3 linked regions of the Homo sapiens genome follow. The protein of the gene in region 3 purifies or fractionates together with the protein of the main gene of each other region. This does not show direct contact. Each region holds a gene or a part of one and is shown on either strand. Other genes may lie near its edges.

Evidence for each region.
Region 1: the proteins of RXFP2 (region 3) and OSBPL8 purify together in Homo sapiens (affinity purification with mass spectrometry; one large-scale study listed by BioGRID and IntAct). This does not show direct contact.
Region 2: the proteins of RXFP2 (region 3) and LIMK1 purify together in Homo sapiens (affinity purification with mass spectrometry; one large-scale study listed by BioGRID and IntAct). This does not show direct contact.

What each region holds. Positions count from the first base shown.
Region 1 is NC_000012.12:76,367,709-76,371,362, reverse strand, and holds part of OSBPL8 (oxysterol-binding protein-related protein 8), read left to right. Parts: intron 1-1,540; coding exon 1,541-1,726; intron 1,727-2,061; coding exon 2,062-2,149; intron 2,150-3,654. UniProt on the Homo sapiens protein: Lipid transporter involved in lipid countertransport between the endoplasmic reticulum and the plasma membrane: specifically exchanges phosphatidylserine with phosphatidylinositol 4-phosphate (PI4P), delivering phosphatidylserine to the plasma membrane in exchange for PI4P, which is degraded by the SAC1/SACM1L phosphatase in the endoplasmic reticulum.
Region 2 is NC_000007.14:74,114,681-74,118,334, forward strand, and holds part of LIMK1 (LIM domain kinase 1), read left to right. Parts: intron 1-1,121; coding exon 1,122-1,278; intron 1,279-3,654. UniProt on the Homo sapiens protein: Serine/threonine-protein kinase that plays an essential role in the regulation of actin filament dynamics. Acts downstream of several Rho family GTPase signal transduction pathways.
Region 3 is NC_000013.11:31,738,218-31,742,369, reverse strand, and holds the start of RXFP2 (relaxin receptor 2), read right to left. Parts: upstream 2,845-4,152; 5' UTR 2,758-2,844; coding exon 2,664-2,757; intron 1-2,663. UniProt on the Homo sapiens protein: Receptor for relaxin. The activity of this receptor is mediated by G proteins leading to stimulation of adenylate cyclase and an increase of cAMP. May also be a receptor for Leydig insulin-like peptide (INSL3).

The sequences.
Region 1 (3,654 bases), on a different chromosome or scaffold from region 3:
CTGTCATATCTTAATTCAGCAAAATAGTTTATCATTTGTGGAAGTGACAGTATTCTGTTTTTGTGTATATGAATGTCAAATATAATATAAATCGTCTTGCTTTTCTGTAGCTCAAAACTACTCATTTTTTTCTTTCTCAATTGTTCCAGCACCTTAAAAAAAAAGAAAGAAAGAACGTTTTTGTTTAAATAAGATTACAGGACTAATTAATGACTCTTAGTTTCTACCTGGCAACAGTTTTCTAACCTGATTTAAGCATTAGAACTCTAGGTAAAGGGAGTGGTGCAGAATCTACTTCTGTTCCATTCTCTGATACAAAAGTAAAGTTACTGGATGGACTGGCTTCTATAGGATTTATTAGTTGGGTAATAACTAAGGCTATCATTTCTGTTCTTAAGTCATGAACTTCTTGCTAGATGGCTTATATTTTTGAATCAGAAATATTGTATACACATTCCCTATTTTATTGTTGTTATATCTTTGTGTTAAGAGAAAGAGACTTATGTATAAGAGATATTTTGCTAGGCACTTAGTACTTATTATGCAACTTTGTCCTCCCTACATGTTTGCACATACATATCATTCTCTGTCATGGGAATTCAAGTCTGTGTACCTTCCCTTCTACACTCAAATTTGAGGTTGTCAAAGATGGAAGAATGTATATGTACCAGTTCTAAAAATTCTGTCTCAGCCATAACCATTTGATGTTCTTTTTCCAGAGATAAGCTTTGCCAAGGCATACATATGATAATTTGTGAGAGTATATAATTCAGCATATTTGAAGATGAGGAAATGAGACTTAGGATAAATAACTTTAAGTGCACCAGCTAAGAAGTGGCAGCTCTAGGACTTGACTCATGTCTATCTGATCCCAAAGCCTTTTCTGGTTTTAACATGCTGCCTTTCTAGATGGGTAGGATATAGATATACTTTTATTTAACAGAAGAAAGAACTAGTAGGGGAAATCATTTTACCTCAGTAGTCTTTTCTGTTAAACCAGTGGTTCTCAACACTAGCAATACATTAAAATATTTTGGGGAAACATTTAAAAAATATATCAATACTTGCGCCTGACCCCAGAGATTCTGATTATAAAAATTCTCTGATAATTCATGGATCCAAACTTCAGAAGCACTGCATTACATTAATGGATCTTTATGAAGCCAGTGAATCTTAAACAGTGTAAGACGCATCTAGGAAGCTTGCTAAAAGCGTAGATTCCTGAGCTTTACCTTCATTACATCCTATCATCTTGAGCCAGCAACACTTCAACACTTACTATCATGAGTTTAAGAGTCTATGTAGTAAGTTTCTCTTGCCAAGTAAAAAAAATTAGTCTCCACTTATGAACAGGTCTCTCTCTACTCAAGGGACTGGATTTATATCTTGACTCATTTCTAAGCCTATGAGCATAAGTGTTGTCAAAGCCAGAAATTCATGTGAGCATTATTTTCTCTACAAGGGATTTGAGGCCTATTCTATATAGATTTTATTTTCTGTTACATTTTTAATACTTTTAATATTTTCGCACATGTATTAGACTCTGGCAACGGGTAACTCGAGCCATAAATGCCAAAGACCAAACTGAAGCTACCCAAGAGAAGTATGTTTTGGAAGAAGCTCAAAGACAAGCTGCCAGGGATCGGAAAACAAAAAATGAAGAGTGGTCTTGCAAATTATTTGAACTTGATCCACTCACAGGAGAATGGCATTACAAGTTTGCAGAGTAAGTAACTTAAAATAGTTTATTTCAAACAATGTATTAGCATGGTTTGTTGCCTTTATTTCTAGAATATTTGTTGCTGGAGTAGTTTTTATTTAATTAAACCATGTATATTAGTGTGAGATTTTTAAACTTGGTTTTGCATTCATTATAAGCTTGACTCTATGATAGAAGTTAGCCTATAAAATAAGTTGAGGATCTGAAGATTAGGTATGGGGAAATCTCATTATTAGAACTATGTATATAATTATTAATAAAATTGGATCATAGAATAGAAAGTTTTAAAGTTCTTTGTTTAGTCATTGAGCAAATGGTTTTTTTTTTTTTCATTTATGTAGTACCCGACCATGGGACCCACTTAATGATATGATACAGTTTGAAAAAGATGGTGTTATTCAGACCAAAGTGAAACATCGTACTCCAATGGTATGTAATAAAAAACTAGGTACACTAGGTATATAAATCTGTTAAATCTTTAGTATCTATAGCAACCAACTAAAATTTGGTTTCAAAATTTAAAATTTTGGGTGAGCAAAATACGCAGCTCTGAACTCTTCTTACCCCAAAGAAACATCAGAAAACAAGCAAAAACTGTCAACTCAATTTGCCAGAACTCTGGAAAACAGTCAGAGGTGTTCAGCAACCAAGTGAACACTGGTCAAGAAAGTGCAAAGAGAGGAAAGCTTTGTGGCATTTTACCTGCCCTTGCCCCAGGTCCATCCCAGTGCAGTAGCAGTCTTGAAGAGCCCCTGCGTTGCCAGTGTAAGTCCCTAGTTCCAGAAGGAGCAGAGTGGACCTCATACACAATTGTGTATGTCTGTCCTAACCTGTCAGAATACTACCTGAAGGACTTACACAGGCACTCATCTCTGAGAAAATCAATAAAGACAAATTATTCAAGGGAGCCAAACAAATTCTGGAGCTGAAAAGTATAACAAAAATGAAAATTCACTAGAGGTATTCAAAAGCAGATATAAGCAAGCATAAGACAGGATCAGGAAACTTAGAGATAAGACCATAAAAATTATCCAGTCTGAGGAGGAGAAAGAAAAATGAATGAAGTGAGGTGAACAGAGCCTAAAGGACCCATGGGACACCATCAAGTGGGTTATCATTGCATTATGGGAGTTCCACAAAGAGAAGACAGAAAAATGAATGAAGAATATTTAAGGAAAGAAGACCCCCCAATCCCCAAATTTGGTGGAAGATATAAATCTACAAATTCAAGAAGCTCAACAAACTCCAAGTAGGATGATCTCAGAGAGACCCACACCACAACAAACTGTCAAAAGCCAAAGAGAGTCTTAAAATCAGCAGAGAGAAACAACTTATCACATACACTGGGGATCATCCATAGGATTAACAACCGATATCTTATAGAAACCATGGGGGCCAGAAGGCAATGAGATGACATATTTAAAGTGGTAGAAGCAAAAACTTGTCAATCAAGAATTCTGTATCTGGCAAAACTGTCATTCGAAAATGGGGGAGAAATTAAGACATTCCCAGATAAAAGCTGAGGGAGTTCATTACCACTAGACCTGCCCTACAAAAAAATGCTAAGGTAAATATGTAATAAAATGAAACTCAAAGCTGTATGAAGAAATAAAGATTTTTAGTAAATAGTTGGACAAATATAAAAGCTAGTGCTATTGTAATTTTAGTTTGTAAGTCCACTTTTTATTTCCTGCAGGACTTAAAAAATAAATGAATGAAAAATAATTTAATTACATATCTTTGTTATCAGACATACAATGTGTAAAGATATAGTTCATTACAACATAAAAGCAGAGAGGATGGAGCTGTATAGGAGGAAAGTTTTTATGTACTACTGAAGTTAAGTTGGTATCAACTCAAACTAGATTGTTGTAGAGGTAGGTGTAAATGTCATCCCCATAGTAACCACAAATGAAATATCTAAAAAAATACAC
Region 2 (3,654 bases), on a different chromosome or scaffold from region 3:
CGACGTGGGCGGATCACGAGGTCAGGAGATCGAGACCATCCTGGCTAACACGGTGAAACCCCGTCTCTACTAAAAATACAAAAAATTAGCTGGGCATGGTGGCAGGCGCCTGTAGTCCCAGCTACTTGGGAGGCTGAGGCAGGAGAATGGCGTGAACCTGGGAGGCAGAGCTTGCAGTGAGCTGAGATCGTGCCACTGCACTTCAACCTGGGCAATAGAGCAAGACTCCAACTCAAAAAAAAAAAAAAAAAGATAAAATTGGGCCAGGTATGGTGGCTTACTCCTGTAATCCCAGCACTTTGAAAGGCTGAGGCAGGTGGACCACTTGAGGCCAGAAGTTGAAGACCAGTCTGGGCAACATAGCAAGACCCTATCTCAATCAGTCAATCAACCTAAATAAATAGTAAATCTGGTGGCATGCCAAGCACAGGACCTGGGTCTATAATCAAAATTCCTGTCTTGATGGGCACAGTGGCTCACACCTGTAATCCCAGCACTTTGGTAGGCCACAGTGGGTGGATCACCTGAGATCAGGAGTTCGAAACCTGCCTAGCCAAGTATGGTGAAACCCGTCTTTACTAAAAATACAAAAATTAGCCAGGCATGGTGGCAGGCGCCTGTAATCCCAGCTACTCGGGAGGGTGAGGCAGGAGAATCGCTTGAACCTGGGAGGCGGAGGTTGCAGTGAGCCGAGATCGCGCCACTGCGCTCCAGCCTGGGTGACAGAGCAAGACTCCGTCTGAAAAAAAAAACAAAAGAATTCCTGTCTTCTCTCCGAAACAAAGCAGCATCAGTGCCCCCGCAGGTGGGAGGGAGCGCTTGCAGGAGGGAGCAGTGGGTCCGCCACGACGGTCTGGGGAGCAGGTGGGGAGGGGGCAGAGGGTGCAGCGTGTGGTGGGAGGGAGGAAGCCACACTGCTATCTTCAGGTGCTTCCCGCAGCTCCATTTGCAAAGAGCGGATGGGTTTGGGGAAGGAAGGGGTCCCCACCCTGTGCCAATACAGCGTATCAGAGGTATGTTCTCTGGGCTGTCTACAGGTTGGCTTGGGGTCCTGGGGAGGGGCAGGCCAAGCGGGCAGTACTAGGATCGGGTCCCAGCATGACCCGGCTTCACCTTCCCAGAACAAGAATGTGGTGGTGGCTGACTTCGGGCTGGCGCGTCTCATGGTGGACGAGAAGACTCAGCCTGAGGGCCTGCGGAGCCTCAAGAAGCCAGACCGCAAGAAGCGCTACACCGTGGTGGGCAACCCCTACTGGATGGCACCTGAGATGATCAACGGTGAGTGGTTCAGCCCTGCCCATCATGGCCCTCACGGGAAGCCATGGGGGAGCCCAGGAGAGCTGTAACCTCCCAAGCCCCTGGCCCCTCCCAGCCTCCTTGGCTCTTCAGTTACCCTGTGGGTCCTGTTGCTCCTATAACACACTTAGTGGCAGCCAGGCACGGTGGCTCACGCCTGTAATCCCAGCACTTTGGGAGGCTGAGGTGAGTGGATCACCTGAGGTCAGTAGTTGGAGACCAGCCTAGCCAACATGGTGAAACCCCCATTCTTTACTAAAAATACAAAAATTAGCTGGGCATGGTGGTGGGTGTAATCCCAGTACTGTAGTACTGTAATCCCAGCTACTAGGGAAGCTGAGGCAGGAGAATCGCTTGAACCTGGGAGGCAGAGGTTGCAGTGAGCCGAGATCGCGCCATTGCACTCCAGCCTGGGTGACGAGCGAAACTCCATCTCAAAAAATAAATAAATAGAAGACACTTAGTGGCTTAAATAAATGATCATACAGTTCTGGAGTCTGAAGTCCAGCGTCAGCCTCACCGGGCTGAAATCAAGACGCCGGTAGGGTGAGCTCCTTCTGCAGGCTCCGGGGCACCTGTTTCCTGACCTTTTCTGGCTCGTGGAGGCTTCCTCATTCCTCCTGTTGCTGCCCCCTCCTCTGTCTTCAGGGCTGGCTGCAAAGCATCTTCTCTTCTCTGATCTCTGCATCCATCCCCGCATCTCTTTCCCTGGCTCTAACCTTCCTCCTTTTTTTTTTCTTTTTTAAAGAGGGTCTCGCTCTGTTACTCAGGCTGGAGTGCAGTGGTGCCACCATAGCTCACTGCAGCCTCAACCTTCTGGGCTCAAACTGTCATCCCACCCCAGCCTCCTGAATAGCTGGGACCACAGGCATGCAACACCACACCCAGCTAATTTTTTTATTTTTTATTTTTTATTTTTTTTTGAGACAGAGTCTCGCTGTGTCTCCCAGGCTAGAGTGCAGTGGCGTGATCTCAGCTCACTGCAAGCTCCGCCTCCTGGGTTCACGCCATTCTCCTGCCTCAGCCTCCCGAGTAGCTGGGACTACAGGCGCCCGCCAACACGCCTGGCTAATTTTTTGTATTTTTAGTAGAAACGGGGTTTCACCGTGTTAGCCAAGATGGTGTCGATCTCCTGACCTCGTGATCCGCCCGTCTCGGCCTCCCAAAGTGCTGGGATTACAGGCGTGAGCCACCGCGCCTGGCCAATTTTTTAAATTTTTAATAGAGACGGGGGTATCACTATGTTGCCCAGGCTGGTCTCAAACTCCTGGCTTCAGGCGATCCTCCTGCCTTGACCTTTCAAAGTGCTGGGATTCCAGGCATGAGCCACCATGGCCCTCCATCCTTCTGATAGGGACCCTTACGGTGACATTGGGCCCACCTGGATAATCCAAAAGCAGCCCTCCATCTCAAGACCCTCAACTTAATCCCATCTGCAGAGTCCGATGGAAGGTGGGACGTATACAAGTCCCAGGGATCAGGACGCAGTCATCTTTGGGGATCATAGTTCTGCCTCCCACAGGGTCTGCTTCCCTCAGTCCATTTCTTTGCTGTCAATGGTCCTATATATGCCCAGATTATAGGTTATAAAGTCCTTCTACAAGCAGGTGACACATGAACACAGGTTCAGGGCAGGCAGACCCCAGCCATCACCTCATCATAGTTAACCTAGTTAAATTAGCCTGGCATGTGGCGTGGTGCCTAATGCCTGTGGTCCCAGCTACTCAGGAAGCCAAAGCGGGAGATTTACTTGAGCCAAGGAGATCAAGGCTGCAGTGAGCTATGATCATACCACTGCCTTCTAGCCTGGGCAACGGAGTGAGACCCTGTCTCAAGAAAACAAAAAATAGGCCAGGCACAGTGGCTCACACCTGTAATTCCAGCACTTTGGGAGGCTGAAGCAGGCGGATTGCTTGAGGCCAGGAGTTCGAGACCAGCCTGGCCAACATGGTGAAACGCTGTCTCTACTGAAAATACAAAAATTACCCGGGTGTGGTGGCACAGCTACTAGGGAGGCTGAGGCAGGAGAATCACTTGAACCCAGGAGCAGAGGTTACATTGGGCCAAGATTGCACCACTGCACTCCAGCCTGGGCAACAGAGGAAGACTGTGTCTCAAAAAGAAAAAAAAAAAAACCTTCCTGTAATCCCAGCACTTTGGGAGGCTGAGGTGGGCGGATCACGAGGTCAAGAGATTGAGACCATCCTGGTCAACATGATGAAACCCCATCTCTACTAAAAATACAAAAAAATTAGCTGGGCGTGGTTGCACGCGTCTGTAGTCCCAGCTACCCGGGAGGCTGAGGCAGGAGAATGATGTGAACCCAGGAGGCGGAGCTTGCAGTGAGCCGAGATCGCA
Region 3 (4,152 bases):
GTCAGAGTGGCCAAGTGAAACTGACATCCGTAAGAAAGGACCATGCCAGGCATGCCTTGAGTCTGGCCACTAGGGGGCAGTCAAACACTGCTCCCCTCAAAATACTGTTCGGGCCCGGTTTTGGTTAACCTATTTTGGAGGTTAAGCAAATTATTTAAGTAGCAATTGGTAGTTGCCAAGTAGCAGCCTCAATGCTTCATGCTTTTACTTTCTTACATAAGCCCATGTTTTTGATTTGTAATATGGTTCCTAATTTGTCCATTAAGAAATGTTTTTTAAAAGTTTAAAGTTATGTTTAATAACTTTATTTTAGAGATGTTTACTCTTAGAGACAGATACTGTTTTTAGATCTGCCTGTGGCTTTGGAGTTCCCAGTCTAATTACGTTAACGCAAGATAGTTACTAACAATTACATGAATTTTATGGACATATTTCAACAGGTTGAAATTCCACAAAACACAATTGGTAGTTACCAAGTAGCAGTCTCAATACTTCATGCTTTTAATTTCCTACATAAGCCCATGTTTTTGATATGTAATATGGTTCCTAATTTGTCCATTAAGAAATGTTTTTTAAAAAGTAGTTTGAAGCTGGTTAACAGAGATACACAGTGAATAAATTAATGATAAAACACACGTAATAATAATAAGATACATTATGCATAGTTGTCTGTTAGTGCCTGTAGCTTAAGGCAATCACTCATTCCTTAGGCACTCCAGAGTGATGATGGTCAGAGAAGAAAAGACGATCACATAATTTCTAATTTTATGTTTTGTTTAGATCTGGCCTAAGAGTCTATCACAAATATTATTTAAATTAAAAAGACAACCTTTACTCTTAGGCAACTCTAAATGAGCTTTCTTTGGTTACTATGAAAAGCCTTACCGTTTTAATTGTCCACAATTTTGTTGTGAAAAAGAAAAGAGTTTTACTAATTATAGAGCAAATTCTATTATTTTTATAAGTAGGAATAAAATGTCAAAGCATTGATTAATGTGTCTTGCTTTGAAAAGAAATCATTTTAAACATAAAGGTTTAAATTAGTAGTCAAAAGTAATATAAAATTAGAAAATAAAAATTTCCAGGATTATAATCAATAAATATTTGTTAGGTTGGTACTAGGAGTTTGAAATATGGCTTTTACTTAGAAATAAAATCAAACAAAAATTATTAATTGAACTTTTTTTTAGTTTAAAGGGTGACTTTACATTATGGTAAATCACAAAATGTTATTTTAGTAATAGATGTTTTTCATCTCATAAACGGTTTAAGCAAAATCAATTAAATGCATTATGTATAAAAGCAAAAGTATAGTAAAATTGGTTAAACTGTGGTTATAGTCCCGTACATTAAAGAACTTTTTAAGGGCACAGATGAGCTCTATGACATGTCTTAAGAACCTGCTTTGTAGCTGTATATTCTTAAAATTGTATAAAATTGAATATTCAAATGTGGATAGAACATGAACTTCTGAAGTAGGACCTTAAATATAGAAATAGACTGCTTGTTGCAACTGTACTGCATGCAAGGTGAGTTCATATATTGTTTCTTCTTAGTTAATCCTTAGCTTTTCATGTAAGAGATATTAAAATATAAAATAAAAGTCATGCTAGGTGCATGGAGATATAGATTTTAAATATTTGTAGTAAAGTTTTAGTATTATTTTAAATTCAAAATAAAATTTAGATATTTTAAGCCTTTTAAAAATCTTTTGTTTGTTAGAAGTTTTAAAATAATTCCTCATAAGTATTGCATTTTATTTCAAGATTTAAAATATTCACTTGGAATTCACCTAATAAAACTGAATATTTAAAAAACCTAAAACGAATTTCTCAGAAAATAAAAATAATTTCAAATTTTAACCTTTATTCTCAGAGGTTTATCAAAATTCTTTAAGAAAAAATACAAATTAAAATAGAAACATTTTTGAATAATAATAAACCCCAGCAAATCTTGGGTGTGGTTAATAGGTTGTTTATGAATGTATAGGCTGACAACGTATCTTTTTATTTAAAAACAAGTGAAGATTTAGGTTTTATTTTTTGGTGAGCTTTACAATGAAAATGGTACTGACTTGAAACTTAAGAGTTTGACTGAAATAAAAATTTCCACAAATTAAAAACAAAAGAAAATTATCTAAGTAAATGCACTTGTATAGACTTTTAATAACTTTATTTTAGAGAGGTTTACTCTTAGAGACAGATACTGTTTTTTAGATCTGCCTGTGGCTTTGGAGTTCCCAGTTTAATTATGTTCACGCAAGATAGTTACTAATAATTACTTGAATTTTATGGGCATATTTCAACAGGTTGAAATTCCACAAAACACAATTTTAGTTTATTAATTTGTCACACTTTTCAGAACAAATGCCAAAAATGTTTTCTATGTTTTAATTGATATAGTCAACATTGTTTTTTGACATATTTTATCTACAGCTTTAATAACATACAAAGGCTTGTTTCCATGAAAAATTTGTTGCATCTAAAAATTACTAGGCTGTGTGGGACTACAAGCAATGAAAGATAATGACAAATACCAGGCAAATTTGATGTCTGTTTTTTTTTTAAACACCCCAATATATTTATTACAACTGCCATAGAACTACATAGAAATGTATTTTTTGGGAATTGCACTCATTTAAAACGAGAAAGTAGCAACCTTACCTTTGACATTGATCAGAACGATGAAATGAAGTAGAAAGAACATTGTAATCAATCTGAGGCTGAAGAGATGTTTAAAAACCAGAAAAACAATCATAGGTTTACAGCAATTGAGTTATTAGACGTATCCTCTTATACCTCAGCAGGAGTTCTGATGTAGTAAGTTCAGTGCCTCCCATGTTCTGAGCATGCTCACAGCTAGAACCTCACTGGCATGAAGGGAGATGGATTCTTGTCACTATGCAGCCTGTCTTTTTTGTTCTTTCTTTTTTGTTTCTTTTAGTTTAAATCTACAGTTGTGTTCTTGATCACTAATTCATTATGGTGTGTAAAAGAAGGTATAATAGGACTTTGGTATTATCTGATAAGAAATATTTTTTAATCACTTAAAAATTTTTTTCCTCCAAAGCATGTACAATTTGCTCTGTTTAAATCCAAACATCGAAGTTCTCAAATATGAAGGATATAGGCTTACACTGAATAGGCTATGAAACCCTTTACAATTATATTTTCATGCAATAAACAAATGTAAAAAACTACTTATTGACAGATACACAAAGAACACCCACTTCTATTCAAATGTACCTAAATGTTTTCAAATGACATATGAAAAGATAATTTAAATATATGGCATTGTGTTAAATAATTACTGTAAAACATTCATACAATATTTTCACTTCACATACTTCCCGCATAATCATATTCCTTTTTCTTGAAGTGAATAATTTTATTCTTGCTTCCAGCTCTGTATTGCACACCTATTAGAAAACACTAATTATAATTTAGTTCTTACATCCTGAAAGCAGCTTTCTCAACAGCATAGTTAGTACAAGTTAAAAGTATAAAAATTGACTTTTGGTTGTAGGATTCTGTTGATCCTAGTGTAATCATTAAGACTTCTCCAAAAAGATGTAGAATTTCCATGTCTGAGTTTATATTTTACTAACAGGGAAATATCTATCTAGAATACAGTTTGTAGTTCTGATTTGAAGAGAAGATTTTGTGACTGAACGATGCAGATTCTCTTATATGTTGTCGTTAACTGTGTCCTAACAACACTGAAAAAAACTACCTTGTGGTGACTATTATCGTCACAAATCATAAAACACGGGGTTTTCCTTGTTCTTTCTTTCATTCTAGCCTTTGAGAGAACAAGGATTCAAACAGAATGTACAATAAAAAATACTTTATTTATCACATAATGTATTTAGTTCTTTTCTCTTTTTAAGAAGTGAGTTAAGTTCTCTAAGACACCTCCCAGACATATTTATATGTGGTCTCATCTGATCTTTCAAATCAAAAGAAAAAGCAACAGAGAGAATAAAGATGAAAAGAAATACTTCAGGATCTTTTCTTACATTTCAAGCATCTTTTTTTCCCTCACTAACCTCAAGGTCTTTTTAGGTAAAAATTGCCTTATTTCACTTAAAGGAATGATTAGTTTTTCTTACGTTTTGTGTTTTGCTGTCGAGATGATGGATGCTAGTTTCTG